4 linked regions of the Homo sapiens genome follow. The protein of the gene in region 3 interacts with the protein of the main gene of each other region in a biochemical or structural test. Each region holds a gene or a part of one and is shown on either strand. Other genes may lie near its edges. The genes, in order: COPA, COPB1, SCYL1 and CCNF.

The links.
Region 1: the proteins of SCYL1 (region 3) and COPA form a complex in vitro, tested with the Homo sapiens proteins (one study listed by BioGRID).
Region 2: the proteins of SCYL1 (region 3) and COPB1 form a complex in vitro, tested with the Homo sapiens proteins (one study listed by BioGRID).
Region 4: the proteins of SCYL1 (region 3) and CCNF form a complex in vitro, tested with the Homo sapiens proteins (one study listed by BioGRID).

What each region holds. Positions count from the first base shown.
Region 1 is NC_000001.11:160,305,251-160,313,238, forward strand, and holds part of COPA (coatomer subunit alpha), read right to left. Parts: intron 7,918-7,988; coding exon 7,835-7,917; intron 6,769-7,834; coding exon 6,618-6,768; intron 5,009-6,617; coding exon 4,942-5,008; intron 3,927-4,941; coding exon 3,851-3,926; intron 1,996-3,850; coding exon 1,913-1,995; intron 1,244-1,912; coding exon 1,104-1,243; intron 524-1,103; coding exon 438-523; intron 349-437; coding exon of another isoform or gene 322-348; coding exon 183-321; intron 1-182. UniProt on the Homo sapiens protein: The coatomer is a cytosolic protein complex that binds to dilysine motifs and reversibly associates with Golgi non-clathrin-coated vesicles, which further mediate biosynthetic protein transport from the ER, via the Golgi up to the trans Golgi network.
Region 2 is NC_000011.10:14,489,459-14,497,446, forward strand, and holds part of COPB1 (coatomer subunit beta), read right to left. Parts: intron 4,982-7,988; coding exon 4,752-4,981; intron 4,354-4,751; coding exon 4,184-4,353; intron 1,222-4,183; coding exon 1,107-1,221; intron 1-1,106. UniProt on the Homo sapiens protein: The coatomer is a cytosolic protein complex that binds to dilysine motifs and reversibly associates with Golgi non-clathrin-coated vesicles, which further mediate biosynthetic protein transport from the ER, via the Golgi up to the trans Golgi network.
Region 3 is NC_000011.10:65,527,417-65,535,404, reverse strand, and holds part of SCYL1 (N-terminal kinase-like protein), read right to left. Parts: intron 4,777-7,988; coding exon 4,618-4,776; intron 3,830-4,617; coding exon 3,722-3,829; intron 2,714-3,721; coding exon 2,600-2,713; intron 179-2,599; coding exon 23-178; intron 1-22. UniProt on the Homo sapiens protein: Regulates COPI-mediated retrograde protein traffic at the interface between the Golgi apparatus and the endoplasmic reticulum. Involved in the maintenance of the Golgi apparatus morphology.
Region 4 is NC_000016.10:2,439,029-2,447,016, forward strand, and holds part of CCNF (cyclin-F), read left to right. Parts: intron 1-324; coding exon 325-429; intron 430-720; coding exon 721-798; intron 799-4,620; coding exon 4,621-4,772; intron 4,773-6,363; exon of another isoform or gene 6,364-6,429; coding exon 6,430-6,594; intron 6,595-7,988. UniProt on the Homo sapiens protein: Substrate recognition component of a SCF (SKP1-CUL1-F-box protein) E3 ubiquitin-protein ligase complex which mediates the ubiquitination and subsequent proteasomal degradation of target proteins.

The sequences.
Region 1 (7,988 bases), on a different chromosome or scaffold from region 3:
TTTTAGATTTCTCAATTTTAAAAAAGTTGAAAAAAGAATGTTCTGATGCCCCTTGCACATATATGCCAGGTAAGGCTTTTCCATGAAGAAAATTCATGGAGGACTTCAGTTACATCTCAAGACAAGACAGTGATTTCAGGAAGCTGTCTTCTCCCATTCTGTATCCCAGATAATTAACTTACCCAGTGGTGACAGCATATTTGATGTGGTTGCTTGTGGTATAGATAAATACCCCACTCTCATCCCAGGCCCCACTCTTGACACGAATGTTCTCATGAATGTTACATAAAGCATCCAGTTTGCGGTTACAGATCACAATGGCTGTAAGAGGCAAAGGGCATGAGTGTTCTGTTGGATAGGGTAAGTGCCGTAGACTGGCAGGGATCGGGGTGGAAGGGAATGGTCTCTAAATCAGGGTGGATATAATGAAGACTCACCGTGTTTGGCTAGTAGTGCTACATGTGACATGTCTGCTGACCAGATAACGTATTTCACTTTAGAAATCTTCACAGATGCCAGAGTCCTGAGATAGATAGAGATGTGCAAACATGAATGGATCTATTTCCCTTGTCTCAGGCTTTGATCTACATCAATTGCACCCTCTAATTAATGTAAACCCCAATTTCTTAATGTAATTCTAATTACATAAAATACTTAATGTAATTCCTACATAGTAGCTCAGTGACTTAAACATTTTGGCTCACATTGTGCACTTACCCCTTCCTCAACCCCCTCTCCCTCATTTCCTTGTATTATTAGGGAATCTGTGTATGTCTGTTTTCACCACTGGACTGCAAGCTCCCTTAAATGTAGGAACTATGTTATTAATCTCTGTCTCTCTCTCATTCTAAGCTCGGAGAACACGCTTTGTTCAGGTAAGTACTGTAAAAACAGATAAATAACCAAGAATCTCACTGTAATGCTAGTGTGGACGTGAAGAATGGAGAGTGATCACAGAAGGGAAAAGTTACTATAAAGAGTCTTGGAGCACAAGAAGTGGCCAAGCCACAAGACAAACTCACTTGGGGAAAAAAGGTTCCCACTAAAGATGTCCACTCTCCCCAACTACAGGGCTGTCTGCTTAGGGGCACCTGATATGTTACCGCTTCTGCTGTACGTCAAAGAGTGTGATAGAGTCCGCATCTCGAAGCAGGAGATTGCCTGTGCCAGCATAGAAGATCTCATCACAGTTGGGCACCTGTACCTTTTTGGTGATCTCATTCTTCAGATTCTTGATCAGAAGCTGCAATAAGTATTAAAGATGGGGTTAAGAGAAGAAATGTGTATAGATGATGATGACAACTGATGATGTTCCTCAGCAATTGTTCCTTAGCTTCAATTAACTAAGTATTTTTTGTCCTGTCCATGTCAATTACCACTGCAGACAGACCATGCCAACCAAGATCTTCTCTAAGGGCCTTAATACATTATTTTTTCTCCTCCAACTAAAACATCCTGAGAAGTCCCAACTAAAGTCTGAATTTCTCAATGAATGAGAGAGAGAAAACACTGTTTCTGGGGCTTAAATTTTGTTAAATATTTTCTTCAGAGTGCTTTATCTTGTGCTGGACCTATTACATTTCAAGTAACAATGGAGGCAGCAGAAGGAGGGAAATTTCCTCATCCAGCCCACTCACTTCAGATTTGATGCGTTTTGGGCTCCTGTAGTCAAGAGTGACTTTAGCTTGGTTCTTAAACCCAGAGCCACGGCGATCATCAACCCAATCAAATCAGTTTTAATGCCATTCCCCCAAGAGGGCTTAGTGTAGGGCTAGAGACAGAGGTACAGCCAATACATGAGAATCACGGCTGCCCGGGGGAGAACAGAAAAAACAATGGTCTTTATTTTGCAATACACAGGCCACTGCCACCACACTCCCCAAATTAGTTTCTGCTTTTAGTCTTAACTCACCGAATGCATCCGATCTAGGACAGCAAACCGATTTCGAGCGACCCAAACGGCTGTCAGGCCTGAGGATCGTTTCCCTTCAGGCGCTGAGAAGAACAAAACCAAAGGGTGGGAGCATGTGGTGAGTCACTGGCAGGTGACATAGTCGGGTGCCATGGAGCTGCCAGTCTTGCTGGATGCCATCTTGGCTTTGCCAGTTGAGCTGCTTCCTAACTAATTCAGCCATAACCTGGGGCTATTATTGAGTGACTTTTCCCCACCAGTCCCCTCCAAACACCAACCACCACCCCTGCCAAGGCTCTTTTCTCTAGGCCAAGTGGTTGCATTTCAGCCAACATCATGTACTGGCAGAAGGGCCGCCCATCTTGGGAGACAGCACACTCCATCAAGCTAACGAGCAGGGCCTCCCTGGCCAAGCTGCGGCAAAGCAAGCCTGTGTCATAGGACCCCCTCCACAGGATGCAGCTGCTCTCTGCTGCTTTTAACATGCAAATGCAGACTTCCTAGTAGGGCAGGGTGAGGCAGAGCACTCCCAACTAAATCTTGACAGGAGAGCTTGGTGCTGGGCGGTATTTAGAACCAAGTTGTTGCTCTGTAAATGTCAACTGACCATTCTTATCACCCTGAAGAGAGTTACAAAATGTTCCTCAGTTCAGTGGCTTATTAGAATTTTGAAATGGACACTCCATTCTCTGGGAAACTTGTAGAAGGATAAACAGAAGGGTGCATCAAAATACTCTTTTACCTATTAGACCAGCAGAAAACTGGAGAGAACATGCTGGCCAGTCTTGCCCCTGGCATCTGGAGTGGCAGGCAATTTATGAAACTAATTATTATCAAAACCAACACTCCCGTTTTCCAGGGGCCAGGAATCTGCATTATTCAAGCCCATCTCTGTTGCCCACCACTGGGCTGCTCCTTTATTATTATCTCCCTCAAAAAATGAAGTACAGAAAATAAAAGTGGTAATAAAACAAAACAAAATATTTTAAATTCTATTAATTGTAAACACAGATGGGGAAAAAAAAAAGCAAAGAGCTAGTTGGGAGGTACCAAACCATAAGATTTAGTCAGAAATGGCTTAACTGACTAATTTATAAGGGAGACTTTGACTTATGGATACCAAATACAAATATCTTTTCTTTCTCTCACTATGAACACATTTAAAAGAGAGGAGATCGATTAGCAACAATAATAACCCAGGGGCACCCACAAAAGAAACAGAGCTAGCAAATTATTTCTTAGGAATCTGTTGATGGGGTCTAAAATATCATTAAAATATGCCAGTAAGAGTGGGGATCTGCAGAATAAATCTCTGACCTGGTACTAGCCATAAACCCGCTGGAAGAAGTGCACCCAAAAGACCATAGGCAATAGTCAAATCCATTCTGAGAATGTTTTGTCAGCAAGTTCTAATCACAAGGACATCAACAAGGGATAGTGGTAATGGAAGAGGTAGGCAGGAGTCTCAGCTGGATCCTGGGATCCCAGGTGGGGTGTGGGGCTGTTAGCAGCCTCATCTTTTTGACATGCAAAAGGAAGCAAATCGGATCTGGATGTGGATAGGACAGTATAAATCCCTAGTCCCAGGATGAGGCATTATAAGATTGGAACCACATTTTTAAATAAATGAAACTACCAGGGTGAAAGTCATATCAACTGACAATAAACTAGGATAACATGCTGTGCTGAAAGAGAGAATGGAGAGTTTCTAATAACCAAATTATAAAATATATATATCTAGCTGGGGTAATAAAATGGAGGAGGAACATGAATATTTCACACCATGGTCGCCTCTGATGCAATTGTCAGCAGCACCTGCCAACAGACATGAGTGATGTGGCCATGGCTTGGGGATGGAATGTGAAAAACTTGAAGAGGAGTTATGATGCGGGTGAGGAGAGCTGGAAGCAGAGTGGGGTAGACAAAAAGAACACTTACCATCAGGATTCTGGGAGTCAGCATCTTTAGGGATGGTGTACAGGTCATAGGTACTATTCTCTAGATTGCTAGCTCTCTGTAGAAGAAAAGGGGAAATTAAAATGTTAGTGAGAAGCACCCAAGATACCAGTTTTCCAATTTACTCTGACAGAGAAAACAGTTCCATTGCACAGACACCAATCTGAAACCATACTTTTCTTACCCTTCACCCAGAGGGCATTTGACTGTTTCTACATCTATGAGTTATAGGGCTCTTTGCCAAACACATCAGCACTGATGTCACTTTATTTTCTTTATCCTCCAAAGATGCAGATATTATCTGAATGAAAGTAAGAAATGCTCTCTACTCCACAAATTAACAGACTAGGACCCTGATATTCTGGTACCCCACCCTGAGGACTCATCAACTGAGTACTCAACCTCTGGAAAGGAAAAAAAAAAGACATCAAAGAAAAGACACTATAGGAATGCAAATGTTTATTGGAAAAAGAAGAAAAGAAAAAACACTCAAGAAAACTCAGAGTATGGGACTACTAGATATTAAAGAAGAACAGATTAGACAATATAGTTATATGAGGAAAGACATTTAACTTCATTCCTTTTAACTTGGCCACGAGGGCACTAAAATTAGAATGTCATTTCTTTTTTTTTTTTTTTTGCAAATTCTGTTGCAAGAAACAGAGAGGAGTCATTGATGACTCTGAAGCCAACCCCACTGATATGAACTTCCTCTCAAAATAATAGTTCTTCTATTTTCACCCAAAGGAAGGGATCAAGGTAAACATTTTCTTTCCATAGGAAATATATATATATAGTCTAAACATTCTCTCAAATTATTTCTAGTGATCTGGGTCATTCATTCTGATGCTCCATTAAGTTCAGCTTTAGGAAAGATAGGCAGTTCACAAATGCTCAATATGTTTACGACAACTGAAACCTACCTGATTTGAGTCTCTGAGTGATCACTGTGTCAGCTCTCACAAAATGACCATTAAATAGTTTCTAAGAAGCCATTAAAGATTCCCTAAGGGCATAAGAAAGAGACCTATGGAAAATGAGGAGAACCTAGGAGGGCTCCACAGGTTACTTACTGTACAAAGCAGGACTGCATTTTCTGCTGGATTGTATGACATATTGAATACTGGAAACTTGGAACCACTAGAGATATATATAGAAAAAGGAGAAAACAGGGAAGAGGCATAAGAATAGAAGGAAGAAAGGAATCACCCCCACACCTCCTACTTATCCAATCTTTACACTATATACTCATCACTTTTATAATCAGGAATAAAATGAATAAATATTGTATTCTCTTCCTTTAAGGCTTGGCAACTTCCCTAGCTCAGCTTTGAACAAACAGTTTTAAAAAGTAAGCCATAGTAGAAGTCAAATTATTCAACAGAAGGTAGGTAGGGTTAACACTCACTGTAGTGAGTGGGACTGGTTCTGCTTGGATACAAATTCCTACACGTAATTGCAGTGGACACCACAGAGTAACATAATGTGATTTGTCTCTGGCTGGTTTCTCCTGTCCCTTGGAGTATTCACATAAACCCATTTTTTTATTGTAATGATGCTAAAGGGTGGTTATCAAAACCTCATTCCAAATTTTGCCACCATGAATGTTTCAGCATGCTGATGCAGCTGGCTTTTCAAAAGGACAGGTCCTTTTGCCAGGCATCCCAGAGGTTATTGTATCTTCAGAATTAAGAGTTTCCAGGGACATATATTCTGGTTCAGAGTTGTGCACTTTTTGCTGGAAGGCAAGGGAGAGTTAAAGAAAAGAAATGCCAAACAAAGGCGAAAAGTTCTGTTACCAGTTTGGGCCATTCTCTATCAAGAAACTTCCTCTGGCTTGCAAGAGACCCAGCAAATTGTGGCAGAATGATTTTCCATCCACAAGGTCACTAGCATTCTCAAGAAGGGAACTATCATTCTACTCATGACCACTTCCTTGCCTCCCTCACTCATTGGGTTTAAACTGAGCGGGCTCATCTAATGGGGATTCCATCTGTGACAGAATACGAGATCCAAAATGTCATTTAAAAGAAGAGTCTTGGTTGGGTGCGGTGGCTCACGCCTGCAATCCCAGAACTTTGGGAGGCCGAGGTGGGCGGATCACAAGGTCAGGAGTTCGAGGCCAGCCTGACCAACACAGCGAAACCCCGTCTCTACTCAAAATACAAAATTAGCCAGGTGTGGTGGTGCACACCTGTAATCCCAGCTACTTGGGAGACTGAGGCAGGAGAATTGCTTGAACCCAGGAGGTGGAGGTTGCAGTGAGCTGAGGTTGCATCACTGCGCTCCAGCCTGGGTGACAGAGTGAGACTCCATCTCAAAAAAAAAAAATTTAAAAATAAATAAATAGGCTGGGCGCGGTGGCTCACGCCTGTAATCCCAGCACTTTGGGAGGCCAAGCCAGGCAGATCATGAGGTCAGGAGATTGAGACCATCCTGGCTAACATGGTGAAACCGTCTCTACTAAAAAATACAAAAAATTAGCCAGGCGTGGTGGCGGGCGCCTGTAGTCCCAGTACTTGGGAGGCTGAGGCAGGAGAATGGTGTGAACCCGGGAGGCGGAGCTTGCAGTGAGCCGAGATCGCGCCACTGCACTCCAGCCTGGGCGACAAAGCGAGACTCCGTCTCAAAAAAAAATTAAATAAATAAAATAAATAAATGAAAGAAAGAAAAGAAGAGTCTTGTTTGTGGGAGTTGTATCAGGGTGACAGATGAGAGGGTTTGGAGGAAAGAAACAAGTCCGATTTACCTCCGCAACTGCATCACAGCTACATCTTTGGAGCTGTTGAAATCCAGCTGTCGTAAGAATCGGTCCTTGACATAGTGTAGCATATTGCCATGAACAGCATAGGCTGGCCGTTCCCGTTCCAGCTTAAACACAATCATACCACCATCATGGCCTGGGGGACAGGGAGAGGAGGAGAAAAAATTAAGCTGTAGGCAAGAAAAAAACCTGGAAATTGGAGATACGTAAGGATGAAGATTATATCTGTAAGACAAGACACCTGAATGCATCCCTTATTTGCCTAAATTCTCACAATTCTTGGAATCTTTATTTAAATAATTCTCTGTGAATCCTTTCCTAATACTATTCACACTGCCACACTTAGTGTCACTATCCACACTGCCCTTTTCTGTGTTCCCCTAATGCTTTGTACAAACCTCCATTACAGTACTTATCATCCTGCACTGTAATCATTTAGGTCTATCACCCACATTGTAACATGAATTCCCTGAAGGCAGAAATTATAATTTCCATCCTTCCCCAGTCTCTAGCATATAAAAAGAGTATAAGAAGTATTTACTGAAAAAATGGATGTTAAAAACCCTTTGTGATTCTGTTTTTTAAAATGTTTTGCTCTTTCCCTACTAGCACCATCATCCCTTAGAAAACCCTTCCACTCTTGTTCTCCTACTGTCTGCTCTCCAAATATAAACCAGATCATGTCACTTTCCTGCCCAAAACCTTCCAATGGCTTTCCATGTATTCAGAATAAAATCTTAAGTTCTAACCATGGCATAGAAGGCAATACACGATCTGGCCAGACCTCACCTGTTACTCAGTCCCTTACTCACTGTGCTCCAACTGGCCTCTTTGGTGTTCCTTAGCATGTGATGGTGACATGCTAAGCACCTCTCACAACACAGTCTCTGCATTTGCTGTTCCCATTGCCTCATACCCTTTCACTTTTCTGAACCACCCAATATAAAGCAGCAGTCCCCATACTCATCTGTCTCTATCTGCCTTACCTTTAATTTTTCTTCAAAGCATTTTTCACCACACATCATTTTACGTACATATAAAGTGGAAGAAAAAAAGGAGAAAAGCTTCAACTAAGTGGCTCTGAGAGTCCTTCTTCTTCTTGTCATCCTACTATACATTTACTAGAGACAAAGCTAATAATCACTTTCAAGACTTATAAACTTTGAATTAAGCAAAGAAAAAAGAGAGAAAATGGCCCTTACCTGCTGCAAAGAGGTTAAGGTTAGGGTGAGCAGCTAGGACCCAGAAACGATCATGGTCTCTGCGGAAAGTCTGAACCCCAGTCCTAGAAAAGGTACACAAAAAGAAAAACATTAATTTCCTAGGAATCTTCAGCCCATCCTACACAAGAATATT
Region 2 (7,988 bases), about 51 Mb from region 3:
AGATTGAAGCAACCCAAGTGTCCACCAATGGATGAACAGGTAAACACAATGTAGCATATATTTACAATGGGGTATTATTTAGCCTTAAAAAGGAAAGAAATTCCAACACATGCCGCAACATAAATGAACCTTGAAGACATTAGGCTAAGTAAAATAAGCCAGTCACAAAAGGACAAATACTGTATGATTCCACTTATCCGGAATACTTAGTCAAAATCACAGAGACAGCAAGTAGAATGGTGGCTGCCAGGGACTGGGAGGAAGTGGTAATAAGGAGCTATTTTTTAATGGGTACAGAGTTTCAGTTTTGCAAGACAAAAAAAGTTATGAGGATGGAAGATAGTGATGGTTCTACATTATAAATGTATTTAAAATCATTGAACACTTAAAAATGGTTAAGAGGGTAAATTTTTTTGTTATGTGTATGTTACCACAATTTTAAATAACTGGGGGACAATCCATTAAAGGAAGATCTGGGGGAAAAAAGTCACAGTGTCTAGATTTCAGAGGACTGGAAGGCCTCCATATTTTTCAGACTTCATGCATATTATTTCCCATATTTTGGTGATAAATACTGGCTAGAAAATTTCAAGATTAGATGGCATCAAGGTGTACAGAGTAATTGCTAACCAAAAGTAGATCCATGTACTTTAACCACCAGCAGAGCAGGATGTGGAGTTGGCACCCGTGTATGAAAGTTGAAGAACCTAAAAGGATACACCTCTACACTGAAGGCCACCCTATTTCCACAGGCATGGCTAAGGATGTATCTATGCAAAGCTACTATTTTTCTCTACTAAACAATTTTAGATCTATACCATCATAGGAAAGAACAGTCATAATAATTTTAATTTTTAAAAACTGTAGGGTGGCTGCTCTAAAATGCCTCTTCAATGTTTAATTGAAAAAAGAATGTATACATATGCAATATTTTAGAGAAGGGTTAAGAAAAAAATGTATTTTTCTACAAGCTTAAAAATTTCAAAATACACAAACCACATGAACTATAAACAAAATTACTGACTAAAAACATGATTAAGTCTATGTAATACTTTCAATTGTCACTTAAATACAGTAATAAGAGTATTTTTTAAAAAGTACCTCACCTGATCTGCATGAATTAGCATCATAAATGCATTCCTTTTGCAACTTGCATCCTTCTCATTCACCAGAAAATCATGTATCAGTTCAGGAGCATCAGGTATAAGATGTTCAAAATTTCTTTAAATAAAACAGGTAACATCCATATTTAATAAAAGCCTACTTTACTATTTTAGTAACTCTCTGGACAATACCAAAATTAAATTTAATCAAACTTTACAACATACTTTTGCTTTTTTTTTTTTTTGGAGACAGAGTCTCACTCTGTTGCCTGGGCTGGAGTGCAGTGGTGCGATCTCAGCTCACTGCTGCCTCCACTTCCAGGGTTCAAGCAATTCTCCTGCCTCAGCCTCCCGAGTAGCTGCGATTATAGGTGCCCACCACTATGCCCAGCTAATTTTTTGTATTTTTAGTAGGGATGGGGTTTCACCATGTTGGCCAGGCTGGTCTTGAACTCCTGACCTCATGATTTGCCCACCTTGGCCTCCAAAGTGCTGGGATTACAGGTGTGAGCCACCGTGCCCAGACAAGGCTAGAGTGCAGTGGAGTGATCTCGGCTTACTGCAACCTCCGCCTTCTAGGTCGAGTGATTCTCCTGCCTCAGCCTCCTGAGTATCTGGGACTACAGGCACGTGCCACCATGCCAGGCTAATTTTTGTTATTTTTTTAGTAGAGACAGCATTTTGCCACGTTGGCCAGGCTTGTCTCATATTCCTGACCTCGAGTGATCCACCCACCTCGGCTTCCCAAAGTGCTGGGATTACAGACATGAACCACCACGCCCGGCCTGCTTTTTGAAACTTCAAATCAATTAGAACTGGGAGAAGGAGCCGGGCGCAGTGGCTCACACCTGTAATCCCAGCACTTTGAGAGGCCCAGGTGGGCGGATCACCTGAGGGTGGGAGTTTGAGATGAGCCTGACCAACATGGAGAAACTCCATCTCTACTAAAAATACAAAATTAGCCAGGCGTGGTAGCGCATGCCTGTAATCCTAGCTACTTGGGAGGCTGAGGCAGGAGAATTGCTTGAACCTGGGAGGTGGAGGCTGCAGTAAGCTGAGATCGTGCCATTGCACTCGAGCCTGGGCGACAAGAGTGAAACTCTGTCTCAAAAAAAAAAAAAAAAAGGAACTGGTAGAAGGAAACACAAAGTTATACCTTCATCTATTAAATTATCAAATTATACGTTTTCTAGTTCAATACAGAAAAAGCTGATTTATTCAACACACCATCTGTTAACCAATGTCTCTAATAACTGTTGTGCATACATTTTAAGCATATCAATATATTAAGAATTACATTAAGAGGAAAAACATAGTCCCTTGAATTTTATTAGTTGTGTACTATTTGCTTACTGACTTGCCTCTTCTTTTGGAAATTTAGAAATATTAGTACAGAGAAGAGTGAACACTAGCTTAATAAAATCCATCACCTTGCTTCAACAATTATAATTCATAGCTAGTTTTGTTTCATCTATATCCTTGCCAAATTTACCTCTTGCCATATTATTTTGAAGCAAATCACAGGCAATGTATCCTTTCTTCTGTAAATATATTGGTAGGTTTCTCTAAAATCAAGGACTCTTTACTTGCAAAACTAATTATTCATCATCACACCTCACAAAATTAATAATTTCCTAATATCAAGACATAGTGTTCACATTTCCAATTGTCCTATAAATGGCCTAATTTTTCTATGTGCACTATAGTTTAAATTCTGAAATTTGTGTAGTCTGTATGGTAACATTAAAGGAACTCACCCTACATTATTATTATTATTATTATTTTTATTATTATTTTTTGAGATGGAGTTTTGGTTTTGTTGCCCAGGCTAGAGTGCAATAGCGCGATCTCGGTTCATCGCAACCTCTGCCTCCCAGGTTCGAGCAATTCTTCTGCTTCAGCCTCCTGAGTAGCTAGGACTACAGGCATGTGCCACCACGCCCAGCTAATTTTGTATTTTTAGTAGAGACGGGGTTTCTCCATGTTGGTCAGGCTGGTCTCGAACTCCCGACCTCAGGTTATCGGCCCGCCTCGGCCTCCCAAAGTGCTGGGATTACAGGCATGAGCCACCACGCCTGGCTCATCTACATTATTAACCAGAATACCACTTTCCTTAATGGATAAAATCTAACAGTAAGATAACTATGAAATTATATCTTAACCAACAAATCTACTAAAGTACAAAGATGCTTATAAAAATTACATTGTAGTCCTTAATAAATTGATACCTGTGACTGTAAAAACTGAGCATTCTAGCTTCATCTAACTGGTTCCTTAAATTGGTTTAAAAATCCAAAATCTCAGCCGGGCGTGGCAGCCTGCACCTACAATCCCAGCACTTTGGGAGGCCAAGGCGAGTGGAACACTTGAGGTCAGGAGTTCGAGACCAGCCTGGCCAACATGGTGAAACCCCATATCTACTAAAAATACAAAAATTGGCTGGGCGTGGTGGTGGGTGCCTGTAATCCCAGCTACTTGGGAGGCTGAGGCAGGAGAATCACTTGAATCCGGGAGGTGGAGGTTGTTGTGAGCCGAGATCGCGCCACTGTGCTCCAGCCTGGGCAACGAGAGTGGAACTCCATCTCAAAACAAAACAAAAACAAATAAAAATTCAAAATCTTCAGCTTTCTAAGAATTGGACTCAGTTATAACTGTAGCCCTTCTCATTTAAAAAGTTCCTTCCTCAAAGCTTCTGACAGTAAAAAGACCGACATTCCACAAAACGAATTCTAAAACAAGGACCAAAGTTAAAAGCCTATAGAGGCTAAGCAAGTGAACATATAAAGTGGCTTGGAGTAATACGGTTGAGAATGACAAGCACTGTCATAAACTGTAAAGTATATAACTTATTTAAAGGGGGTTACTGTTATACAAGTTCAGCAGAATGTTGTCTTGTGGAAGCTAGGAACAGCGCTGCCAGATCTTTTGACTTTTCAATGTTCATAATAAAAAATACAGTGCTGGCCATACAAAATATATCTTCAAGCTATATTCAGTCTGCAAGCAACCACTTTGGAACCACTAGTCTAAAAGACTAAACAGTACTCACAGAATGAAGCCAAAGCAGTATCTTTATTTACCTATAGATGGTATAGATGGCCAAAACAGCATTTCTTCTAACATAGCTGTGTCGATGCTCCAAACATGCACGAATAGCTGGCATTAAAGGTTCTAGCAATTCTGCTTCTTTCAATTTGCAAAGAAAACGAAGAGTAGATCCTCGAATAAATTCATTAGGATGTTGAAGATCCTGATATAAAAATTAAAATATGAAATGCTGAGTTTCAGCTTTTTACAAAAAGAAAATTTTAATGCAAAACTTTCCAATGGAAAAAAAATACGTTTGAGAAAAAACCTAGATTACCGACAATTTCCATCATATTCTTGTTGACTGAAGCAATTTTTACCTATCTCATCAATGTCTTATATGTGTGTCACTGTTTTTTAATTAATATATACACATAAAATGCATAGAAAATGTCTGAAAAGTGACAATAAAACTTTTAAAAATAACTCTTTTACAATTCCAAATCTCTACAACTTACATCTTATCAAAGACTCAATTTTAACAATTAAAACACAGCCCATTCTACCAATTTTACATTTAAATTCAAAGCAATATTCAGAAATAATTATGATTTGGTTTACCTTTCTGTATGCATCACATACAAGGATCATCTCATGTAAAAGTCTCCCATCTGGAGTTGTTTTAGGAACAATTTCCCAAAATACCAGAAGTAATTTCTTGATAGTGTGATCCTGAAGAGGTAGCACAAAACGAATGATGGTCATCAGAAGTCCAGGAAGTTTTTCACCATTCAGAATCATAATGATTACTTTCTTCAAAGCTTCAGTCTTTGACTTTACATCTCCTTTTTCTGAATCAAAAATTTTTTTAAAAAAAAGCACAATTATTTCAAAAGAAAATTCATCACATAAATTTAAAAGCAATTAACAAAATAAAATGTACCTTCTTACTTCAGTATCAGCAATGGTAATAAAAGTACAAACCCAAGTGACAAGGTTCTCCACCTGGTTCTCCACCAAATAATCTGTCTTTGCTCAAGTCATTTATCTCTGGAAATCAGACTCTTTATATATAATATGAAGGCGCTGGATTAGATTTCTGGTTCCTAACCAATTGAGTTAATGCAGGCTCCATGAATCTACAGTCATACCAAGTAAACGTGTTTCAAAACACATATAGCTATTTTTCAAAATGTAAATACATACTATTAATTGATTTTGAATTCAAAACAGCTTTTAGCTATTTGTGTGCATTTTAACAAAGTTAAAACTACTATTATGGGAGGATAAATATGTAACTTTTTTAACATTAGAAAGAGAAACGTCATACTCAAAAAGGCTGAAAACTAAAGTAGTGGATTATTTCTAAAATCTCATCATAGTTCTGCAGGCAGGCTGTAAAACTTTAGAATCTTTCTTAAGATATCATCTGGAAAACTGGGAGGTAATTCAAATGTTCTAGATTAGTAGTCATTATTTAGAATTAAGGATGACACATTAAAGATAAAATGCTAGTTTACTGTTATTTAGCCTAAAAACTCTGCAACATAAAGTATTTTACGCAAAACTATCTAAAATTTCACACCATTATCATTGCATACTGAAGAATTTATAGTACTAAAAATCTTCTGGATCCAAAACTCAAAGGCAGAGAAGTATGTAGTAGCACACTGTACTACAACTGTTTAGATCATCAAAATAAATGAATTATCTTGGGAAGGGGAGAACAAAGAATGATTACAAGTCTTCAATAACCTTAGGGCCATTATGAGGAAAAGAACTACAACTAATGGGTAGTAGTTACCGGGAACCAGATTTGGGCCTAAATATGAGAAATACATTTCTAATGATTAGAGCTAAGCGGCTATGAAACAGAGTTCTGAGCGTCAGATGCGGTGGTTCATCTGGCCCACAGAACTCTTCATTTAATAGCCACTTAAAATTTTTGTATTTTTACTAGAGATGGGGTTTCGCCATGTTGGCCACGCTGGTCTCGAACTCCTGAAGTCAAGTGATCCACCTGCCTCAGCTTCCCAAAGTGCTGGGATTACAGGCATGAGCCACCATGCCCAGTCTCAACTCTTCTTAATGGCAAAAATATACATTAAACTGGAGAGTATGTATTTATTTATTGGTTGGAGGAAGGTAGCTAAGGCAGCTTCAATTAAGACTAGGGCATTGTTCCAACTAAGGGCAGATTTTATTCTTTACCTTCCTAGCTATAACCTTAGGTATCCTGAGGATCTAACAATGAAAATTTTTAAATTATGAGGAAAAACACTAATGAATGTATTCACTATTTTGCATTCAACTATCCTACATGAACATGAAAAAAGGGAAATATATGTGGCTTATGTATATAATGGTATCATTTTAAATATCATAAAACTGGGTTTCTTTTCCCTTCTCTAAAAATAGACCTCAATAGAAACCTAGTATTAAGTAACCTAGAATCAGGAGGTATTCCATTACTGCTGATTAAGAAGTGGGAATAGGCAAGTAAAATATTAAGTTTCTTTTCAAACTGCAAACTATCTTCTAAAAGATCCTTTCTATATTTGAAGCATAATTTTCACTCTGCTCTGTTTAAACAATATTTATCAGTTTAAGTTGTATTTATTTTTAGCAGTTCAATTAAACAAGAATCATTACTTTGGAAAGCATATTAATTATAAATTTTTTTTTTCTTGACAGAATCACTCACAAAAAGGAGACACGGTATACATTTTTAAAATTCAGAAATATGATAAATTTAGTAAAGTTCCAGGACACAAAATCAACATACAAAAATCAGTAGCATTTCTATATGACAACAGTGAACAATCTGAAAAAGAAATTGAAGAAGTAATCTAATCCCATTTACAATACCCACAGATAAAATTAGATACCTAGGAATTAATTTAACCAAATAAATGAAAGATTTCTACAATGAAAACTATAAATACTGATGAAAGAAATTGAAGAGAACATCAACAAATGGAAAGATATTCCATGATCATGGATTAGAAGAATCAGTATTGTTAAAATGTCCATACCACCCAAAGCAATCTAGAGTCAATGCAATTCCCATCAAAATACCAATGACATTCTTCACAGAAAAAAAAAAAAAATCCTAAAATTTATATGGAACCACAAAAGACCCAGAATAGCCAAAGCTATCCTAAGCAAAAAGAACAAAACTGAAGGAATCACATTACTTGACATCAAATTATCCTACATAGCTACAGTAACCAAAACAGCATGGTACTGGCATAAAAACAGACATAAAGACCCATGGAAAATAACAGAACCAAGAAACAAATCCATACACCTACAGTGAACTCATTTTGACAAAGGTGCCAAGAACATACATTGGAGAAAAGACAGTCCCTTCAATAAATGGTGCTTGGAAAACTATGTGCAGAAGAATGAAACTTGTCCCCCATCTCTCAACTTACACAAAAATAAAATCAAAATGGATTAAAGGCTTAAATCTAAGACTTTAAACTATGAAACTACTACAAGAAAATATTGGGAAAAATCTCCAGGACGCTGGTCTGGCCAAAAATTTCTTGAATAATACCCCACAGGCACAGGCAACCAAAGCAAAAACGGACAAATGGGATCACATCAAGTTAAAAAGCTTCCGCACAGCAAAGGAAACAATCGACATACGTGATGAGACAACCCACAGAATGGGAGAAAATATGTGCTAACTACCTATCTCACAAGGGATTAATAACCAGATATGTAAGGAGCTCAAACAACTCTACAGGAAAAAAAAAAACTCATAATCTGATTTAAAAATGGGCAAAAGATTTGAACAGACATTTCACAAAGACATACAATTGGCAAACAGGCATATGAAAAGGTGCTCAA
Region 3 (7,988 bases):
AGCAGTTGTGCAGGACACTCACGCTAGCACTGAGGTAGGAGCCGATTTTGCCCAGGCAGACTGTGGTGTTGCAGCGGATGGGGCCCTGTTCATCCTTGGCCTGTAGCCGTGCAAAGTGCTTCATCAGCTCCACATTGAGGTTGGCCTCGTTCAGCTTTGGGGCCAGGAGCAGCATGGACTGTGGGGCAGAAATGAGTGGGAACTGTGGGCTGTGGCGGGCAAAGGGCCTTGTGCAGGAACAGCCTCCTGGCAGCCCTCATCCCAGAGCACACCCATCAAAGCCTGCAAGGCCACCTCCCAGCCTGGGCCTGGCCCTGTCCAGCATGTTGAAGAAAGGGACCCCATTTCTGTCCCCCTTTACAGCAAAACCTCCAAAGTCTGTCTGCACTCCTGTTTCCCATTTCCTCTGCTCTGCTCTCCTGATGGCACTCCACCTAGACTCACACAAACAGCCCCACACTCTGCCAAACTGGCTCAGGGTGAGGTCACTGATGCCCTCCCCGGTACTAATTTCAACAGCCAGTTCTCCATCCTCACCAAACTTGACCCTCAGCAGTTCTGACACCCCTGAGTTTTCCCTCCCTGAAACTTTGGTCTCTGGTCTTCCAGGACACCACCCCCTCCTGGTTCTCCTCTGACCTGGCTGGCTGCTCCTTTTGCTGAGACTCTAACGTTCACACACCCGGAGCCAATCTAGAGGGCTCTTTTCTATCTAACACTCTTGCCCTAGGTGATCTCAGCCATTTCATGGCTTTCAATGCCATCTTGTGAGCTGACAACCCCCAGGCACATACCCCTAGCCCAGACTTCCCTAAATTTCACACATGCATAACCAGTGGCCAACTCGACATCTCCATCCAGCTGCCTAACAGAAACAGCCAAGATGGGGCCCAACATGCTTGTGTCATCTCAGTAAATAGCAACTCCTAACCTTCCAGTTGCTCAGGCCACAAGCCTCAGAGCCACTCTCGTCTCCGTATCTTTTTTGTTTCTGAGATAGAGTCTCACTCTGTCACCCAGGCTGGAGTGCAGTGGTGTGATCTCTACTCACTGCAACCTCTGCCTCCTGGGTTCAAGCAATTCTCCTGCCTCAGCCTCCTGAGTGGCTAGGATTACAGGCGCCCACCACCATGCCTGGCTAATTTTTTTAATTTTTATTTTATTTTATTTTTTTGAGACGGAGTCTTGCTCTGTTGCCCAGGCTGGAGTGCAGTGGCGCGATATCGGCTCACTGCAAGCTCCATCTCCGAGGTTCACACCATTCTCCTGCCTCAGCCTCCCAAGTAGCTGGGACCACAGGCGCCCACCACCATGCCCGGCTAGATTGTTTTTGTACTTTTAGTAGAGACGGGGTTTCACCATGTTAGCCAGGATGGTCTTGATCTCCTGCCCTTGTGATCCGCCCACCTCAGCCTCCCAAAGTCTGGGATTACAGGTGTGAGCAACCGGGCCCAGCCATTTTTTGTATTTTTAGTAGAGATGGGGTTTTACCATGTTTTACCATGTTGGCCAGGCTGGTCTCAAACTCCCATCGCCTCAGGTGATCCACCCGCCTCGGCCTCCCAAAGTGCTGGGATTACAGGCATGGGCCACCAGGCCCGGCCTAAAATAATTTCTTAAATTTTGAGATGAGGTCTCACTCTGTTGCCCAGGCTGGAATGCAGTGTCACGATCACAGCTCAATGCAGCCTCAACCTCCTGGGCTCAAGCTACCTACCTGCCTCAGCCTCCCGAGTAGCTGGGACTATAGGCGTGCATCACCATACGCGCCTAACTTTTGTATTTTTTTGTAGAGATGGGGTTTGGCCATGATGACCAGGCTGGTCTCCAACTCCTGGGCTCAAGCGATCCTCCCACCTCGGCCTACCAAAGTGCTGGGATCACAGGCGTAAGCCACTGCGCCCAGCCCCTGACCACTGTTTTTAAAACCACAAACTCTTCTCCCCACACTTTCCAACAATGCATATTTTCTTTCTTTTTTTGAAACAGAGTTTCCCTCTTGTTGCCCATGCTGGAGTGCAACGGCATGATCTCGGCTCACTGCAACCTCTGCCTCCCAGGTTCAATTGAGTCTCCTGCCTCAGCCTCCCGAGTAGCTGGGATTACAGGCATGCGCCACCATCCCCAGATGGTTTTGTACTTTTTAGTAGAGACAGGGCTTCGCCATGTTGGTCAGGCTGGTCTCGAACTCCTGACCTCAGGTGATCCGCTTGCCTCAGCCTCCCAAAGTGCAGGGATTATGGGCGTGAGCCACCGTGACCAGCCAACAATACATATTTTCTAATTCTGTTGTATTGTCTGGCAAGCCCACCCTCTGTGCCCTGGAAAGGAAGCTCCATGAGTGCAGGGGGCTGGGCACCTCATGCATGCTGCCTCCCAGCATGGGGCTTGGGCCAGGAACAGGCAGATGCTCGTTGTCTGCTGAATGGAGGACGTGCTCCCCCGCCAGCTGCCGAGCTGCACCCACGGCCTGAACCCACACAGCAAGGACAGTGTCTGCTTGGACCCATGGGCCAAAGCCAAGGCCTCTGTGTCTAGGGTGAGCCCCTCCAAGCCTTGGAAAACCAGGGGTAGCCACTCTGGGCCTGGCCACACCCACCTTGACCGTCTGCTCCCGGATGGCAGGGTTGGTGTCCAGGAAGCCATGTACGACGTGGGGGAAGATCTGGGTGTTGACTGTTGGCTCGTCAAGGTACTGGATGAACTGCTCCATCTGTGGCCCAGGTTGGGATGCGTCAACATGGTCAGCCCTTCCCACTCTATCCCCATAGCCATGGAACCGCTCCTGGCTTAGCTTTTCCACCCAGCAGGCACTGGCCAGCCAGGTCAACCTCCTGAGCCACCACCCAGGTGTTTGGCCTCAGGCCCAGGTGGAGGAGTGAGGAAAGGCCAGGAGGGCGCTAGGAAGGCCTGGCTCATAGTCCGGCTCATCTGGCCACCCTCTCAGAGCCTCTTCTATTTTTTTTTTTTTTTTTTTTCTGAGACAGAGTCTTGCTCTGTCACCGAGGCTGGAGTGCAGTGGCGCAATCTCAGCTCACTGAAACCTCTGCCTCCCAGGTTCAAGCAATTCTCCTGCCTCAGCCTCCTGAGCAGCTGGGATTACAGGCACCCACCACCGCACCTGGCTAATTTTTGTATTTTTAGTAGAGACGGGGTTTCGCCAAGTTGGCCAGGCTGGTCTTAAACTCCTGACCTCAGGTGATCTGCCTGCCTCGGCCCTCCCAAAGTGCTGGGATTACAGGCATGAGCCACTGCGCCCAGCCTGAGCCTCTTCTATAAATGAGGGTATCACCCCTTCCCTGCTCCTCCCCACCTGCCCACAGTGCCACGAGGAGGACTGGTGTGTTTGGTGGTCACAGAGGGAATGGCACTGGGAGCCACTGGTACTTCCTAGATCCCATCCATCTTGTCTGATGCTCCCAGCTGCCCTGGGGTTGCAGGAGAAAGACTGTATCCCCACTCTAGAGGGCCAGAGTGACTGAGCCAGGAGAGGAGGGGGCATTAGAGCGCTGCAGCCTGGGCAAGCTGGCCATTCCCAAAACTGCCAAGGAGCCCTGTATGTGGCCAACTTTCTGAGAGCCTGGCCTCATTGGGTCCCTCAGTTGTGTGTATGTTCAGGGGTGGGGTTTCTGGGGTCCCTGTGCAGCCAGGGCAGGTGCCTCCCCAGCCACCAGGTTGGGGTCTGGGTGGACCACCACAGAGTCTGGTACAGAGGCCTCACCTGCTGCAGGAGGCGGATGCGCATGGCCCGGTCAGTGGATGAGAACATCTTGACCACCACAGGGATGATCTTCTGCTGATACTCCTCAGCGCTCAGGAACTTGCCCACCTGAAAGGGCAGGAAGATGGGTTCAGCTGCTCACAGGAATGGGCTGACTTTGCTGGGCTTATCTAAATTCCTGGGGCTGATATCCCAGGGTGGGAATGAAGTGATGGCGGAGGGGGGGGCAGGCATTTCCTCAGTAGCTCCTCTACCCATATTCCATCTCAGCCTTGCCCTTAACCTTTCTGGGCCAAGGCCTCTTTCAGGAGGCTGATGAAAGCTCTGGGCCCCTCCCTACAAACAGGTACCTTTATGCCATATGCAGAAATTCTGCCTGCAATTTCTGGGGGTTCTCAGCTATACAGGACTTGCTTGTTGTCTTCTCCCCTCCTGACAAGTCTTTCAGATGAAAGGGTTCTCCCCAAGGTGAGGAGGGCAGGGAATGCCAGGTGCCCATAAAAAGGCGGGCTGGGGTCTGAGGAAAGGGTGGAAGATCCAGCCCCCAGAAGTCAGGTGAGCTGAGTGCTAAGCAGTCAGGAGGGAGGAGGGCAAAGTGGGGTGGTGAGTAGGTAATCCCCTGGGCCCTGGGAACCAAGGTGCACAGGTCAGACCCGGAGAAATGGAGGAAGGGCTGAGGGTTGTGAAGCCAGAGGTTTGTGGAAAAAAGGATTTTAGCGGCAGAGTCTCTCCTCCCCAGGGGACAGCTGGTCAGGTACCTGTTTATAGACACTGGCAGGAAGCTCCTGCTCATATGGGCTTGGGTCTGCCCTAAACAGCCTGCCCTACCCCAGGGCCTTCTCTTTGGCAGTTCCTGTGCACCCAGCCAGCCTTCTGGACCCCACAGTTCCACTCACCTTGAAGAGGGGCGTGAGGACAACGGCCCCAGCATTGCCGAACTCGAAGGCGGTCAGCAGCTGGGGCAGCACCTTGTGCCGACAGAAATCCTCAGGGAATGCGTCCAGGCTCTTGCTCAGCTCCTGGAAGAATTTTTGCTTCTCGGCTGGCTCTTTGATCTGGGGGAGTGAGGACGGGACCCGGGGAAGAGATCAGCCTGGTTGCAGCCCAAACCCAGCCATGGGTGAGGACAAGGAGAAGTGATGCTTATGGGCCTTATGGGCTCTGGAGCCTGGCTGCCTGGGTTCAAAGCCCAACTGTCCCACTTACCTGCCATGTAAAATGGGATAACAGCTCTACCATCTACGGGATAGTTCTGGGATTCAACCAGAAAATGCACATAAAAGCTGCAGAACAGGCTGGCACACGGCAGATGCTCGGTGGGTTAGGGACTGTTGCTGCCATTGCGGCTACCTGACCTGTTGCTGGGAGAGCAGCCACTAGGGACAGCAGAGGCATCACTAAGGGCATCAGGCCCTTTATCAGTGTTGCCTCTACTGCTCGCCACCCAGGATGTGAGCACAGAGGAGGAAACTGAAGATCAAAGAGGTGAAGGGGCTTACTTGGTTTCCCTGCCCTGGCTGGATTGGGCAGGAAGTTCCTGGTAGGCCGTGGGAAGGCAAGGATTAGGTACACTTTACTCCCAGACCTCATCCTCCCACTGAGCCAAAATGGACCAGCCTGTAAGCTCAACGGTCTCCTTTAGTCCTCCTAACCCCCCTTTGAGGCCATAATACCCCCAATTCATATTTCTGGAGCACAGATTATGTGCTAAAACCTTTACACAGATTATCTCAGTCCTCTTCACAACTTTACCAGGTAGGTGCTAATGTAATCCACATTTTACCAACAAGGAAGCTGAGGCACAGAGAGGGCAAGGAGCTTGTCCAAAGTCACACAGCTAAGAAGCGGTCAGAGGAGGGTCTGACTCACTGGTTTGGCACCTCTCCTGTGCTGTACCCTTCAAAAGATGCTGTCACTCCCCCCATTCACAAAGGAGGAGACAGAGGGTCAAGGTCAGCAGCCAAGAGTGGCCAGGCAGGGGTCATGACCCAGTGTTGTGTTCCAAAGTCCCTGTGCTCTCTGTTGTACCACCACCCCCATAGCCGCGGCTTGGCCGGGGAGAGGCGACCTCTGGCTTGGGACAAAGAGGACCTAGATGGCCCTTGAGCAGCTCAGACCAGCGTGGGAGGCCGGCTTGGTGCTCTGATCACATGGTTCAGCGGGGCCAAGGCCCAGAGAGGCTAAATCACATCCAAGGTCATACATCAAGAGAGTAGCAGCTGGGTTCTCCCCACCACTCCACCTAACAATGGGAAGAGGGGCCCCTGGGCACTGCCCTCCCATGTTCTCCTGGAGGCTCCCGAAACCCTATTTCCTATGGGGTACACTTTAAGGAGAAGGGTAGCTTGGCAGAGCCAGCCGTACGAGGAGAACTCCACGTAACAAAGTTCCTGCTGCCCCGACACTGCCCAGGAGGCAACGGGGTCTCAGCGTTTCCAGCAGCTTCTCCTTCCAGGTTTCCACCCTCCAAAGGCCCTCCCCGCCCCACAGCATCTGAGTCAAGATTCCATGACCTCTGCTGGGTCAGGGTCTGTGGAGTGTCTGCCACTCTCCTCCCCTGCTCCTGATTCTGATTCTCAGCCCCCGCTGTCTTCCCCACACACGGCTGGGGCCGGGCATTGCATAGAGCAGAGCCTTCCTCCCTCCTCCCTACAGCAACCCTGCAGGCCAGTGCACCCAGATGCTCCTCACTATACACATGTGGAAACCAAGGTTCAGAGGCAAAGCAGAGGGCTCCCTCCTCAGTATCTCTCCACGTGCTGTCGCCTCTGCCTGGAACTCTTACTCCAGGTACCATCCCTCTGGCTCCCACAGTCATGTCCTTCAGGCCCCAGCTCCAATGTCACACTTCAGAGAGCCCATCCCTGAATACCCACTCCAGTACTTTCCTTCCTGCACTGGATTTTTCTTTTCTTTTTTTTTAAGACTGAGTTTTGCTCTTGTTGCCCAGGCTGGAGTGCAATGGTGCGATCTCGGCTCACTGCAACCTCCTGCCTCCCAGGTTCAAGCTATTCTCCCGCCTCAGCCTCTGGAGTAGCTGGGATTACAGGTATGCGCCACCATGCCTGGCTAGTTTTTTGTATTTTTAGTAGAGACGGGGTTTCTCCATGTTGGTCAGGCTGGTCTCAAACTCCTGACCTCAAATAATCCGCCAGCCCCGGCCTCCCAAAGTGCTGGGTTTACAGGCGGGAGCCACCGCACTGGCTGGTTTTCTTATTTATGGTGTTCTTTTGTTTGTTTTGAGACGGAGATTTGCTCTTGTTGCCCAGGCTAGAATGCAATGGCACAATCTTGGCTCACTGCAACCTCCACCTCCCAGGTTCAAGCGATTTTCCTGCCCCAGCCTTCCTGAGTAGCCGGGATTACAGGCATGTGCCACCACTCCCGGCTAATTTTTGTACTTTTAGTAGAGATGGGGTTTCTCCATGTCGTCAGCTGGTATCGAACTCCCGACCTCAGGTGATCCACCCGCCTCAGCCTCCCAAAGTGCTGGGATTACAGGCGTGAGCCACTGCACCTGGCTCTTATTTATGGTTTTTATGTTTTCTGTCTCTTCCCCAGCAAGAGTTCCCAAGGTTGGGGATCTGGTCTGTTTACTTTTTGCTAGATTCTTGAGGACAGTGATCTAGGTCCGCCTCACCTTCCTCCACACCGTGCTGCCCACCCCCCTGCAGCCAGTACAGGGTGTTACACCCCTGGGGACCAGAGCCAGAATGTACACGTGGAGTGACTGGAGTAACCAGAGCTGGCCCTAAATGCCTGCTGGGCACAGAACACTATACCACACATTTTCAATTCTGACTCCTCACTGGGTCCCTTTGAAGTAGGTACAGGTTGAGTCTCCCTTGTCCAAAATGTTTGGGACCAGAAGTGTTTCAGATTTCAGATGTTTTTTGGATTTTGGAATATGTGCATTATACCAATTCAACATCTTTTTTTTTTTTTTTTTTTTGAGACGAAGTCTCACACTGTCGCCCGGGCTAGAGTGCAGTGGCACGATCTCGGCTCACTGCAACCTCCGTCTCCTGGGTTCAAGTGATTCTCCTACCTCAGCCTCTGGAGTAGCTGGGATTACAGATGCCCGCCCAGCTGATTTTTTGTATTTTTAGTAGAGATGGGGTTTCTCCATGTTGGTCAGGCTGGTGTCGAATTCCTGACCTCAGGTGATCCACCCACCTCAGCCTCCCAAAGTGCTGGGATTACAGGCATGAGCCACCGCGCCTGGCTCCAATTTAACATCTGTAATCCAAAAAAATCTGAAATGCAA
Region 4 (7,988 bases), on a different chromosome or scaffold from region 3:
GGCTCATGCCTGTAATCCCAGCACTTTGGGAGACTGAGGTGGGTGGATCACCTGAGGCCAGGATTTTGAGACCAGCCTGGCCAACATGGTGAAACCCCGTCTCTACTAAAAATACAAAAATTAGCCGGGCATGATGGTGGGCTCCTGTAATCCCAGCTACTCAGGAGGCTGAGGCAGGAGAATTGGTTGAACCCAGGAGGCGGAGGTTGCAGTGAGCCAGGATGGCGCCATTGCACTCCAACCTGGGCGACGAGTGAAACTGTCTCAAAAAATAAAAATGAAAAAGAATAAGGGAACAATGAACTCTGCTGGGATTTATTCTAGGATGAGGAGAAGCAGCAGCAGGCCCATGACCTGTTTGAGGAGGCTGCTCATCAGGGATGTCTGACCAGCTCCTACCTCCTCTGGGAAAGCGACAGGAGGACAGATGTGAGTGGTGCCTGCTCTGGGTCGGGGGGAGTTATGCTGGACAAAGGCGTAGTTGATGCTGGTCCTTGGATGCGTTTCTGTCCACAAAAGGGAGGTGGCTCTTGCTGCTCCCGGTCTCTCAGCCTCCGGGAACCACTGGTCAGTCGGCTATTCTTGGTACCCCCAAAAATGACTCCACCATTTGAGAGAGAAGAGGTGGGAAGTTAGCGTAGTGTCGGCCCTTCTGGGTCTTGGTTCTGAGTTCCTCCCAAGACACAGTTGTACAAAGGCTCGGTGATCTCCCATTGACAGGTGTCAGATCCTGGGCGATGCCTCCACAGCTTCCGAAAACTCAGGGACTACGCTGCCAAAGGCTGCTGGGAAGCGCAGGTGAGGTGCGGGGCTGGGATGACGTGGGGAGCTGGCCTTTCTCCCTCCAGCCTTGGGGCAGGACTATCTGGGCTCCCACATTGGGGGGCAGGACTATCTGGGCTCCCACATGGGAGGCCAGGATTGAGGGACACCCTAAGATCGGTTCAGCACTGGAACTGGTCCTAAAGGACAGGTACACTGTGAGAAGAGCTGGGAAATGCGTTATTCATCTCTGCCTATCCACTCTTGCCTCTCAGCCAGCCAACCTCTTAATTTTCAAATGCTTGTGAGCTATAGCTGCTGTCAAAATTTGTGCCATTCTTGAAAGTTGTCCCATAGGTAGAACTGATCTTGACAACAAAACTTGAGGCTACTTGAGAGCAGAGGGGCGTGGAGAGTCCCTTCCTGCTTCCTCTTCCTGTTAGCGCCTTGCTTGTCATGTCACCTGGTCACCAAGTCATCCAGGGCTACAGGCAGGAAATCAAGCATTGGTAGACTCTCCCCTCACAGCTATAAATAAGTTGTTAGGGCCAGGTGCGGTGGCTCACGCCTGAAATCCCAGCACTCTGGGAGGCCAAGGTGGGCGGATGACCTGAGGTCAGGAGTTCGAGACCAGCCTGGCCAACATGGTGAAACCATCGCTACTAAAAATACAAAAATTAGCTGGGCGTGGTGGCAGGCACCTGATACTCAGGAAGTTGAGGCAGGAGAATCGCTTGAACCCGGGAGGCAGAGGTTGCAGTACCACTACACTCCAGCCTGGGCGACAGAGCAAGACTCTGTCTGAAGGAAAAAAAAAGTTGTCAGGACGAATCAAAGAAAGCTCCTATTTGCCAAATGGATAGAAGCTTGTTCTTGTCACCCCACCAAGTGGGTGGCAGAGTGATCTGCGCTCAAATGCTAGGGACAAAATTACAAATTGATAATGGCCCAGCCCGAGGTGTCATAGCACATTGTGGTGTTCACGTCCAAAAAGCCAGTCTACAGATTTACAAGAAGGCCAGACGTGATGGCTCACGCCTGCAATCCCAGCGCTGTAGGAGGTTGAGTTGGGAGGATCGCTTGAGCCCAGGAGTTCAAGACCAGCTCTGGCAACATAGTGAGACTCCATCTCGACAAAAAATTTTAAAATTAGCTGGATGGGCTGGGTGCAAGTGGCTCATGCCTGTAATGCCAGCACTTTGGGAGGCTGAGGCGGGCGGATCACGAGGTCAAGAGGTCGAGACCACCCTGGCCAATGTGGTGAAACCCCGTCTTTACTAAAAATACAAAAAAATTAGCTGGGCCTGGTGGCATGTGCCTAGAGTCCCAGCTACGCGGGAGGCTGAGGCAGGAGAATTGCTTGAACCCAGGAGGAGGAAGTTGCAGTGAGCCGAGATTGTGCCACTGCACTCCAGCCTGGCAACAGAGCGATACTCCATCTCAAAAAAAAAAAAAATTAGCTGGATGTGGTGGCGTGTGCCTTGTAGTGCAGCTACTCAGGAGGCTGAGGCAGGAGGATCACTTGAGCCTGCGAGGTCAAAGCTGCAGAGAGCCGTGATCGCAACATTGCACTTCAGCCTGGGCTACAGAGGGAGACCCTATCTCAACAAAAACATTGTTTACAAGAAATGCAACAACGTAGTTCTCGTGGAAGTTCAAGGGGCCTCAGTCAATTCTCACAAAAGAGGAAATAGGGCCGGGCGCAGTGGCTCACATTTATAATCCCAACACTTTGGGAGGCTGAGGCGGGAGGATCACTTGAAGCCAGGAGTTCTCTCTGTTGCCCAGGCTAGAGCACAGTGGTGCGATCTCAGCTCACTGCAACCTCTGACGCCTGGGTTCAAGCCTTCTGAGTAGCTGGGACTATAGGTGCCTGCCACCACGCCCAGCTAATTTTTGTATTTTTAGTAGAGGTGGGGTTTCACCATGTTGGCCAGGCTGGTCTAAAACTCCTGACCTCAAGTAATCTGCCCTCCTCGGCCTCCCAAAGTGTTGGGATTACAGGAGTGAGCCACTGCACCTGGCCAAAAAAAATTAATAATAAATAAATAAACTCAAGTGGTTAGAAATTGGAATGTTCAACCTTACTACTAGTCATAAGAGTGCACTTTTAAATGAGATATTTTGGGCTCATGATATTAGCAAATTATATATATATATATATATATATATATATATATATATATATATATGTTTTTGTTTTTGTTTTGTTTTGTTTTGTTTTGTTTTGTTTTTGATGGAGTCTTGCTCTGTTGCCCAGGCTGGAGCGCAGTGGCACAATCTCGGCTCACCACAAGCTCCGCCTCCTGGGTTCATGCCATTCTCCTGCCTCAGCCTCCCAAGTAGCTGGGACTACAGGCATTGCACCACCACGCCCAGCTAAATTTTTTGTATTTTTAGTAGAGACAGGGTTTCACCATGTTAGCCAGGATGGTCTGGATCTCCTGACTTCGTGATCTGCCCGCCTCGGCCTCCTAAAGTGCTGGGATTACAGGCTTGAGCCACCGCACCCAGCCCTTAATTATATATATATAATATCCATAATTAGATATATTTATAATATCTATTATTATATTATAACATAATTATATTTAGTCTGCCAGCTATTTATAATATATAATATTATATAATATAATATTATTATATATAATATATAATATTATATAATATAATATTATTATATATAATATATAATATTATATAATATAATATTATTATATATAATATATAATATTATATAATATAATATTATTATATATAATATATAATATTATATAATATAATATTATTATATATAATATATAATATTATATAATATAATATTATATATAATATATAATATTATATAATATAATATTATTATATATAATATATAATATTATATATAATATCATATTATTATATAATAATTATATATAAATATGTATTTATATATTGTATAACATATAATTATATAATAATTATAATAATATAATATATATCATATATAATATTATATATTATATTCTATAATATATAATATATTCTATAATATATGTAATATTATATTCTATTATATATAATATATATTATATTATATATATTATATTATAATTATATATTATATATTATATAATATATAAATATATATTAATATATATGATTATTATATATTATTATATTATATATTTTTATATATTTATATATTATATATTATTTATGTTAATTATATATTATATAATTATATTATATGTTCTATAATATATAATATAATATTATGTTATAATATCTATAATATATATTATAGATATATTATATATAATAGATATTTTTATATATAATATATTACATATTATATATTATATGTTTTATATTGTATATAATATATATTATATATAATATATATATAATATATAATATATATATATTTCTCTGTTTTTGGGTGGCTAGCTGGTAACTTCTGAAAATAGCTGTTTTTAATAATCACAGTGTTTGCTGGGATGAAGCTGTGATGAGGCAGGTGCTCCTATTCCTGGGTGTAAACATTGGCAGAAGCCTTTCGGAGAGCACTGGGGCGTATGGCCAGAGACTTAACACAGCTTCCCCAGGCATTAGCCATGTAAGAAACTGAGACCTGAGCCACGGTGGAAAGGCCACTGACATTTCATTATATATCTTTTCTCATGTCATCTATTACTTATACAAAAAGGAATAATAATTAAAACCTGAGCCATCCTTGTTCCCGAAGCTTGTGAAGGTTTAAGTTAAGTAGGGCAGTGTGTCCACATGCATTTGGTGCCTGAATGGGCCTTTGCTTCAGAAATGGAAAACTGCAACATGGCTGCTGTCTCACGCTCATGTTTGTCTTTTCTTCCTCAGCTGTCTTTAGCCAAAGCCTGTGCAAATGCAAACCAGCTTGGACTGGAGGTGAGAGCTTCCAGTGAGATCGTCTGCCAGCTATTTCAGGCTTCCCAGGCTGTCAGTAAACAACAAGTCTTCTCCGTGCAGAAGGGACTCAATGACACAATGAGGTGAGGCATTCAGGCCGGGGCTTCTAATCAGAGCGGCGCGGAAGCCAGCCTCCAGGGGAAGGGAGCCCTTTCCACTTAACCCCAGTTACCTGTGACAGGGCGGCATAGAGTTCCCTTATCACCCTTTTTTTTTTTTTGAAGTGGAGTCTCGCTCTGTCGCCCAGGCTGGAGTGCAGTGGCGCGATCTCAGCTCACTGCAAGCTCCGCCTCCTGGGTTCGAGCAATTCTCCTGCCTCAGCCTCCCGAGTAGCTGGGACTACAGGCACCCACCACCATGCCCGGCTAATTTTTTGTATTTTTAGTAGAGATGGGGTTTCACCATGTTAGCCAGGATGGTCTCAATCTCCTGACCTCGTGATCCGCCCGCTTTGGCCTCCCAAAGTGCTGGGATTACAGGCGTGAGCCACCGCGCCCAGCCTTGGGTGTTTTTTAAAACCAGTAATGCCAAAGTTATCGTGGACTTTTTGGAAGAAAATATCCTACTCTGCTTTCTTCAGTTACTTTTTTTTTTTTTTTTGAGACGGAGTCTTGCTCTGTCACCCAGGCTGGAGTGCAGTGGCGTGATCTCGGCTCACTGCAAGCTCCACCTCCCGGGTTCACACCATTCTCCTGCCTCAGCCTCCTCAGGAGCTGGGACTACAGGTGCCTGCCACCACGCCCAGCTAATTTTTTTGTATTTTTAGTAGAGATGGGGTTTCATCGTATTAGCCAGGATGGTCTCAATCTCCTGACCTCGTGATCCGCCTGCCTCCGCCTCCCAAAGTGCTGGGATTACAGGCGTGAGCCACCACGCCCAGCCACCTTTTTTTTTTTTGAGACAGGGTCTGGCTCTGTCACCCAGGCCAGAGTGCAGTGGCATGATTTCAGCTCACTGCAGCCTCCGCCTCCCAAGCTCAAGAGATCCTCCCACCTTACCCTCCTGAGTAGCTGGGACTACAGATGCACACCACCATGCACAGCTAATTGTTGTATTTTTAGTAGAGACAGGGTATCACTATGTTGCCCAGGCTAGTCTTGAACTCCTGGGCTCAAGCGAACCTCCTGCCCCAGCCTCCCACAGTGCAGTGATCTTTTTTAAGCCACAGAACACATTGAACATCTTTTTTTTTTTTTTGAGGCAGGCTGTCTGTCACCCAGGGTGGAGTGCAGTGGTGTGTTCTCGGCTTGCTGTAACCTCTGCCTCGGGCTCAAGCCTTTCTCCTGCCTCAGTCCCCCAAGTAGGACTACAAGTGTCTCCACTCTATTCAGAAAGGCATTTACCATATTGGGGCATCATTTACCGTATTGGGGCATTCCCTTGCGACTGTCCACCTTCTCCCGCTCCCTGCACGCCCCGAGGGTCAGGGTTCATCCACTGTGGGCAGACCAACGGCTGTGGGCTGACTTTTCACTTTGCGTCAGGTCGAGGTCTCAAAGCGCTTGTGTTTGGGAGCACCAGGAACACAGTCGAAGGATGTGGGGCCTGCTTTGGGGCTGGGACCCACGGAGCCTCCCGGGCTTCCTGTGACATGGCCTCTCCAGCCTTGGTTCCAGGGTAAACCCATGATTCCAGAGCTAGCCAGCTTATTTGGTCGGGCCCAACAGGTGGGGTTGAAATCGCAGACAGGGACACATGGAGAACGCCCCCACCAGTTCCCACGTGCTTCTCTTTCCGCAGGTACATTCTGATCGACTGGCTGGTGGAAGTTGCCACCATGAAGGACTTCACAAGCCTGTGCCTGCACCTGACCGTGGAGTGTGTGGACCGGTACCTGCGGAGGAGGCTGGTGCCGCGGTACAGGCTCCAGCTGCTGGGCATCGCCTGCATGGTCATCTGCACCCGGTGAGAAGCCCCCTTGGCCCAGCTGGCAGGGACGTGCTGGCCTTTCCCGGGTTCAGGGTCACCTGCCCTTCATGTGCTCCTCACTGGTTTGGTTTTGTTTTGTGTTGTTTTTTTTTTTTTCCCGAGACCAAGTCTCGCTCTGTCACCCAGGCTGGAGTGCAGTGGTGCGATCTTGGCTCACCGCAACCTCTGCCTCCCAGGTTCAAGTGATTCTTCTGCCTCAGCCTCCAGAGTAGCTGGGACTGCAGGCGTGCGCCACCATGCCCGACTAATTTTTTTGTATTTTTAGTAGAGACGGGGTTTCATCATGTTGGTCAGGCTGGTCTCAAACTCTTGATTTCAAATGATCCGCCCGCCTCAACCTCCCAAAATGCTGGGATTACAGGCACAAGCCACTGCGCCTGGCCCTCACTGGTTCTTGACTCATGAGCCACGAGTGTCCCACCTGGTCAGACATGGAGTGCCACGCTGAGGGCCTTTTGCAGGCAGGGGTGGCAGAACAGCCTTCAGCGTGTGGGGGCCGCTGTGTGGGGTGCCTGCATCCAGGCAATTCATCCTGGCATGCAGTCTCAGGACCCAAAGTGTGGCCTCGCTCTGGCAGGCACAGGCTGGACTGCCCTGTCCCCTGGCTCCTGAGGGCAGCAGGATGACTGATCAGGGAGGGTGGCAGTTGGCTGCCCTTCTCTGAAGTTGGGTTCTAAAGTCTGTTGCCAGAGTTTCCTACACTCTTGGAGTTAGAGAGTTTTTCGTCCCCCACTGGTGCCCTGCAGAGCCCACTCCAGCCACGTGGGTGTCTCTCAGCAGCAGCGTGCGTCCTTACACGGCAGCCTGTCCTTTTCAAATCAGACCACTGCTTTCCTTTAACTAATGCTGGATCCCCTAGTTCCGCCTTTGGAAATAACGTGGAAATGATTCTCACAATACGATTTGCATTTCCTAAACCAGCTGTCCCCAGCATGGTCTACATTTCCCGAGGAAGTGCTTTCCAGACCGACTCCTCTGTAGAGCCTGGTGGGTGAGGATAGGCTTGGCTGCACACAGCATATGTGTAAGCTACAGAGACTTGTTTCTTTCTTGCACAGGTAACCCAGAGGCAGAGGTTCCAGGCTCAGGTCATTGGCATGTTTTTTGTTTCATGAGGAAGCAGAGGAGCCCCATCTCCCATCTTAATCTCTGCCACCAACTAGGGTGCTGCCCTTGTCCCTGTGACACCTGTACCTGCCACATTCACCTTTGCACTGAGCTTAGTCTTGTGACCACATCTCACCAGACGGGAACTGGGAGGTGTAGTCTCTTCGGGCCTGTGTGTGCCAGCTCGATGCAGTGTCATTCCCATGGAAGGAGGGAGCAAACCCTGCCACAAGCATCCAGAGCTGTCTTCAGATGCGCTCTTG